Homo sapiens: one gene and its partner. The protein of the gene in region 2 interacts with the protein of the main gene of each other region in a biochemical or structural test. Each region holds a gene or a part of one and is shown on either strand. Other genes may lie near its edges.

What was found.
Region 1: the proteins of RPP14 (region 2) and RPP30 form a complex in vitro, tested with the Homo sapiens proteins (one study listed by BioGRID).

Annotation. Positions count from the first base shown.
Region 1 is NC_000010.11:90,892,178-90,896,000, reverse strand, and holds part of RPP30 (ribonuclease P protein subunit p30), read right to left. Parts: intron 1,227-3,823; coding exon 1,110-1,226; intron 548-1,109; coding exon 518-547; intron 122-517; coding exon 84-121; intron 1-83. UniProt on the Homo sapiens protein: Component of ribonuclease P, a ribonucleoprotein complex that generates mature tRNA molecules by cleaving their 5'-ends. Also a component of the MRP ribonuclease complex, which cleaves pre-rRNA sequences.
Region 2 is NC_000003.12:58,312,545-58,316,367, reverse strand, and holds part of RPP14 (ribonuclease P protein subunit p14), read right to left. Parts: intron 647-3,823; exon of another isoform or gene 549-646; intron 1-548. UniProt on the Homo sapiens protein: Component of ribonuclease P, a ribonucleoprotein complex that generates mature tRNA molecules by cleaving their 5'-ends.

The DNA of each region.
Region 1 (3,823 bases), on a different chromosome or scaffold from region 2:
ATACATGTTCAACTATAATACGACTTCAAATTCAAAATTTCCTGAAAGACAATGTCAACAACTTTTTACTCAGAAAAGGATACAGATTTGCCACGTCATATGGCCCTCTTATTTCTAAAGGCTGAAATAAAATGAACAAAGAGTAGATATGAGAAAATTATTTATAACATTTCAATGACTTATAGCAAATTAATAGAAAATTTAAGTATCCAAAAATAAAAAAATTACATAAATTTAAGTCCTTATAATTTTGATGGGTTTCATAGCTTTTGAAAATATAAGAGAAGCTTGAAAGGCATTTTGTAACAGTATAAAAGAAAAACTGATTATATAAACAAAAGTTGAAGCCTAAAGAAAGTGGGGATAAATTTTACTATTTAGCAATTACAATGAGCAAATGCAGTTAAAATAGAAAAAAATGCAACAAATATTCATTTACTATTTTAATTTATCCCCTAGAAACTGAAAAGTTTTATAACCTGAAAGATGAAAACAAAGTACTTCATGCTAGACTTACCCTTTCTGCAGCACTAGATATAATTACATTCTACAAAATAGAAAGTGACTAATATTAATCTTAGATAAATGTAAAAAAAGGAGTTTCATAATATAAATAGCCAGTAATCATATTTTAACATTTAAGGCTCAAATACCAACTTCTTTTAAAGATAAGGTAAATAATTAAGGTGAAAAAAATGAAAAGACTTCATGTCAAACTAAAGGCAATCTGTAATAAAAAACAAAATATGTTTTCCTAACAGATCTTAGTAAAGGTGAATTAAGTTTAAAAAACAAGATGAAAAGGTCACATATCTTAATTCAACTCAGTGAGGACCATTGTTATTCTAGACTTTTCTTTCACAGTATGTAAATTGCAAATTTTTATCAAAAGATATGGCTTCCAACACATCTTTTTCTCCCTTACATTATTCTTCCCTTGGTATTTTTCTTTCCCTTAAAATTTGCAGAGCTCACTGAAATGGCAGAATTTGTTCCTATGCTATGAGAACATTCTGCTTTAAGGAAAAGGAGTCAGTTTGACAATTCCAGTGTACTACTAATAATAAACTGCCAGATGCGAAAAACATCCTAAAATTATAGAACCATACCTTTCCTTTGCAGATTTGCATCAAATTGAGGGCACTGGAAATTGTATACCTTCTCATTGTGGAGTCTTTGATAGCAGGGCTATAGACAAGTTCAAAAGCCAGGCCTCGGTCAATCGCCTTCACAGGAAATAAAGAGAACTGTCAGAGATAAGCATGCACTGGCCTACTTCATTTTCACTGATTCTCTCTTCACATCCCTCCTCACTCCCTACTACTGACCCCTTACATGTCAAGGTACAGCTTTATGAAAGACAGATCAACACTCAAATGGCACCACCCACAAGGAGAAGAAAATAAATCCGTGGCTCTACTTGATTAAGAGAGTTTAACTTGGCTGTGGGGAAGCTGACTTTACATAAACAGGAATTATGAAGAGGCTAAGAAGAACAAAGTCCCAATGGCGTGAGAGAGGGGCTACTACTCCATGAACTATCAAAAGGAAAACAGAAATGTACTCCCTACATTTACAGTAAACTGTATACAAACATAGTAAACCAAGTAATCTGACCTATGAATGCACAAAGAGACAAAGAAATGAAGAGCTGAAAAAAGCCCAAAGAACCAAGGGCAGGAAGGTCTTTCAGGTAAGTAATTTATTCTCTATATGTTGAAGAGAGAATAACAGCCATAGTTAATTGAGTGCTGACTATATGCTAAGAGAGTCTTATATATAATATTTAATCCTTACTACAATACCTTTATAAAGCATTACTGCAAAGCCTGCAAATTGCCCAGATATCTGTCCTCTCCTTTTTCTTTAGTAATAAAGCCCCTGATTTTTCACTGGGCTTATAGCCGCACAGCAAAAAAGATGGAAGTGCCCTTGAAGATTTTGCCCAGCTCACCATACAAGCTTGGCTTTTTTCATGAGAAACAGAAACTTCTTTATTTAATGTACTCTTACTACAGAGGGATCCACAGGTAAGTAGATGAGTGGAAATGATATTGAAATTAACCACCATACTGTTCAGCTTTCCTAATGAGCACCTAAATGTCTGCATCCATTCACAAAAGATGTTTTAAGCCCACTACGTGCAAAAGCTGAGATGGTTTCTCCCTTCTAAAAGCTTACATTTTAGTGGGGGAGATGATCAATAACCACACAAAAATACAAAACTTCAACTGTGTTAAGTGCTATCAAGGAGAAGTTTAGGGTTGAGGAAGAAATTAAGCAGTTAAATAGTAGAGGAAGGTGCACTTTCAGAGGGAGGTCAGAGCATGCAAAAGTCTTCAAGGTTGCAGCATGGCAGCACGTAGGGAAGGTCAAATGCTGGAGAAAAATAATGAGGAAGACAGGCTAAAGAGGATGGGAAGGGCCAACTGTGCAGGCCTTTAGAGCTGGTGATGAGGATTATTCCTAATGGAGAAAACATCTGAAGGATTTTCAGCATAGAGATGATAATCAGACTCTCAATTGCAAAAGTCACTTGAGTGGCAGTACTCTTTCAAAAGAATAAAGAAAGAATGGTAGGCATGTTCTAGGCAGTATGGTCCAAGTCTCTGCTTGGCAAATGAGTTTCGATTGCCCAGAGTATAAGTTGGGACTGGCCCAGCTGTGACTACTGGGGTTTACTCCTGAGCATTTACGGGGAATGGAGAAACTTGTCTTTTTCTAGAACTGGCAGTCCATCTTGATTTAATTCAGTTGTACTTGAAGGCCCCTTCTGCTTTTCCCTCCCGAACACAGATTTCCTTAATTCTTCCTCCGGCTTCAAGGCTCCCAGATTTTATTTTAGATTTTCCTATATGTCTGATTCTAGTTTGGTTAGAATTTAAATGCTATTTTCCACACTGCAACCTTTCCCTCTCTCATTTTTTGACTTTTCCCCATCTCTAATTCTTTCACCTGTGTTGATTATTTCTGGGAATGACATTTGTTAAGATAGTATTTCTGTCCTAGTTGAACGTGTATCTCATTGGCTCTGCCAAGCTTGCACACTTCTTGAGAGCTAGACTGCCTTTTACATAAAAGGTGTATAATATATTTATATTTTGAGTGAATAAATAGCAGCTTATGGAGAAGATGTCCTGTGATAACGTTGTTCATTATAGATGATCCATCATCAAAGGAACCTCGGTGCACCTGGCTAACCAAAAACCACAGATAAGTAAAAACATCCCTTTTAGCCATATTATCAGCCATCTCCTTGGCTATATATTTTACCAAAACTACTAATTAGCTGAAGAGGCTGACCTGTATTTCTTTTCCTTATCCTTCTAGTTGTGGAACGATAATACAAGGCAACAGGATGATGAAGAGGGGAAATAAATGAAAGAGGTGAATGATATATAGAGTTGGATGCTTAGATCTCGAAATATTCCTAATTGACTGAATCTAAATTTCTAGACCCTTGTGGGTACCAAATCAAAATAAAAACAACTTTTGCGGGGGGAGGGGAGAAAAAAAGGATATTATCAGCATAATTATTTTTTAAGGAAAAAGTTCTGATTTTCATCTTGGTACATTAATCAAGTTCACTTTAAAACTGCTATAGGAATTCTTGAAAAAGAAAAATTAAAAATAATGTGCTATTGAAGGTTGTGAATATTTCTTTCATAGCATCTTATTTTAAATTTTTAGATGGATAAAATACAGACTCATTACCTGGGATCTTGCTGTAAGACCATTTTGATGCAAATTGCCTAAAGCTCATCAAATGATTGTTCCTAACAGCCTCTTCCTAACAGTGCCTGCCTGATTAGCTTTTGTTCTC
Region 2 (3,823 bases):
ACAGCTCCCCCTGCCTAGAATGTTCTGCCTACACCTCTTCATATGGCTGATGTCTCTCATCCTTTGAGCCTTCATTTAAATTGTTCCTTGACTGATCTTCAAGATGAGACAAAGTCAGCTTGCTATGTTCTTTCTTGTACAGGACACCATACTTTCTCTTTCATAATTCCCTTTATTCTTGTCACTAATTGTCCAACATGTTTTCCTACTACAAGAACCAAGACATTAGTCCATGTGGCAGAGGCCATGTCTGTTTGTTTGCAGCTATATAAACCCCAGGAACGAGGTTTTCTACCTGACACACAGGTACACACAGGGATATTTTTTTTTAAAATTTTGTATTTAAAAAAATTATAGACTCACAAGAGATCACAAAGAAATGTACAGGGATTGGCCGGGCACAGTGGCTCACGCCTGTAATCCCGGCACTTTGGGAGGCCAAGGAGGGCGGATCACCTGAGGTTGGGAGTTTGAGACCAGCCTGATCAACACGGAGAAACCCCATTTTTACTAAAAATACAAAATTAGCCGGGTGTGGTGGCACATGCCTGTAATCCCAGCTACTTGCGAGGCTGAGGCAGGAGAATCGCTTGAACCTGGGAGGCGGAGGGTGCGGTGAGCCAAGATCGTGCCATTGCACTCCAGCCTGGGCAAGAAGAGCGAAACTCTGTTTCAAAAATAAATAAATAAATAAAAAAGAAATGTACAGGGAGGTTCATGCACTCTTCATCCAGCCTCCCACAATGTCAATGTCTTGCGTAACTACAGTACAGTAGCAAAACTACAAAACTGGTATTGGTACAAACCAGAGGTTATTCAGATTTTACCAATTGTATGTCTACTCCTATTTATACCTGTGTGTGGCTCTATGTAATTTTCCCACATAGGTAGCTTCATATAACTACCACCACAATCAATGATAAAGAACTGTACCATCATAAGACTCCCTTATTCTACCCTTTACAGCCACACCCACCCCTCCTCCCCTACTCCTCACCCCAGCAACCACTAACCTTTCTCCAGATTATATATAGTATTTCAAGAGTCTTCTATAAATGGAAACACCCAGTATGTCATGTTTTGGGATTGGCTTTTTTTCGCTCAGCATAATTCTCTGGAGATTCATTCATATTGTGTCTAAATAGGTCATTCCTTTTCACTGTCGAGTATATTCCATAGTAGGAATGTACCACAGTTTATTCACCCATTGAAGGATATATGGGGTGTTTTCAGTTTCATTGTTATTAAAAATAAAGCTGCTATGAATATTCATGTACAGGCTTTTGTGTGAACTTAAGTTTTCAGTCCTCTGGAACAGATGCCCAGGAGTGCTAATGCTGGGTTCTATGGCAGATGCACGTTTAGTTTGTTAAAGATACTGCTGGCCAGGCATGGTGGCTCACACCTGTAATCCCAGCACTTTGGGAGGCCAAGGCAGGCGGATCACAAGGTCAAGAGATTGAGACCATCCTGGTCAACATGGTGAAACCCCGTCTCCACTAAAAATACAAAAAAATTAGCTGGGTGTGGTGGTGTGTGCCTGTAGTCCTAGCTACTTGGGAGGCTGAGACAGGAGAATCGCCTGAACCTGGGAGGCGGAGGTTGCAGTGAGCCAAGATTGTGCCACTGCACTCCAGCCCGGTGACAGAACGAGACTCCATCTCAACAAAAAAAAAAAAAAAAAAAAAAAAATACTGCCAAACTATGTTCCAGAGTGGCTGCACCATTTTACATACTCACTGTAGTGTATGAGTGATCTAGTTTCTTTGCATTCTTGCTAGCACTTAGTGTTGTCATTTTTTATTTCAGTCATTCTGCTAGGTACACAGTGGTATCTCATTGTGTCATTAATGTGCATTTCCCTAATGGCTAATGTTAAACATCTTTCCATGTGCTTCTTTGCCAACCACACATTCTCTTTAGCAAAATGTCTGTTAATGTTTTTGCCCATTTTCTAATTGAATTGTTTGGTTGAGTTCTGATACTTCTTTTTTATTATTATTACTATTATTTTTTTGAGACAGAGTCTCTCTCTGTCACCCTGGCTGGAGTGCAGTGGTGTGATCTCAGCTCACTGCAACCTCCGCCTCCCAGGTTCAAGTGGTTCTCCTGCCTTAACCTCCCGAGTAGCTGGGGTTACAGGCATGTGCCACCACGCCCGGCTAGTTTTTATAGCTTTAGCAGAGACAGGGTTTTGCCATGTTGGCCAGGATGGTCTCAAACTCCTGACCTCAGGCAATCAACCCACCTCGGCCTCCCAAAGTGCTGGGATTACAGGCATGAGCCACCACGCCCCATGTGTTATTATTTTTGAGACATGGTCTTGTTCTGTTGACCAGGCTGCAGTGCAGTAGTGCAATCATAGTTTACCACAGCCAGCCTCAAACTCCTGGCCTCAAGCAATCTTCCTGCCCTGGCTTCCCAAAGTGTTGGGATTACGGGCATGAGCCACTGCACCAGGCCAAATGTCATTTATATATTCTAGACACTATAGTCCTTTGTTGGATACGTGGTTTACAAATATTTTCCCCCAGTGTGTAATTCATCTTTTCATCCTTTCCCACCCCTACCCCCAGCCATGGAGGTGTGATCACCACTCATTGCAACCTTGAGCTCTTGGGCTCAAGCAATCCTCCCACCTCAGCCTCCTGACTAGTTGGGACTATCAGTGCACACCACCACACCCAGCTCAATTTTTCAAATTGTTTTGTAGAGATGGGGTTTCACCAGATACCCAGGCTGGCCTGGAACTCCTGGGCTCAAGTGATCCACCCGCTTGGCCTCTCAAAAGTGGTGGGATTACAGCTGTGAGCCACTGCACCTGGCCCTTTCATCCTCTTAAGAGTCTTTTGCAGAGTAAAAGTTTTAAATTTTGATGAGGTACTTAGCATATTTTGATTTGACAGACTATATGAATCACAAAATAATTTCCTGAGCATCCTGTCTTCTTTCAACTTCTGAAACTCTACTTCTCTACTTCTGTTCTCAAAGTTGCTTAAAATGCTGGTCTATGACAAAATAATGAGTTGAATCAGAATATAAACCAATAGTATCATTAATCACCATGTTTAGTTCAGTTCATCTTTTTTTCATGAGGAGCCTTTTTTTTGAGACCGAGTCTCGCTCTGTCGCCCAGGCTGGAGTGCAGTGGCGTGATCTCGGCTCACTGCAAGCTCCACCTCCCGGGTTCATGCCATTCTCCTGCCTCAGCCTCCCGAGTAGCTGGGACTACAGGTGCCCGCCGCTGCGCCCGGCTTTTTGTGTTTTTAGTAGAGACAGGGTTTCACCGTGTTAGCCAGGATGGTCTTGATCGGCTGACCTTGGGATCTGCCTGCCTTGGCCTCCCAAAGTGCTAGGATTACAGGCGTGAGCTACCGTGCCCAGCCCTTTTTTTTTTTTTTTTTTTTGAGACAGAGTCTTGCTCTGTTGCCCAGGCTGGAATGCAGTGGCGTGATCTCTGCTCACTGCAACCTCTGCCTCCCAGGTTCAAGCAATTCTCCTGCCTCAGTCTTCCAAGTAGCTGGGACTACAAGCGTGCGCCACCATGCCCAGCTAATTTTTGTATTTTCAGTAGAGAAAGCGTTTCACCACGTTGGCCAGGCTAGTCTCAAACTCCTGACTGTAAGTGATCTGCTCATCTCAGCCTCCCGAAGAGCTGGGATTATAGGAGTGAGCCACTGCGCCTGGCCCATAAGGAGACTTTCTCATTAAAAGTGGTTCTGCTGCAAATTCCTTATCTCTTCAAGATGGGAAAAGAGTTTGCAGGTGCCAGTCTAGGCCACACTTTGAGTAGCACTGTGCTACAACAATCATTTGTCTAACG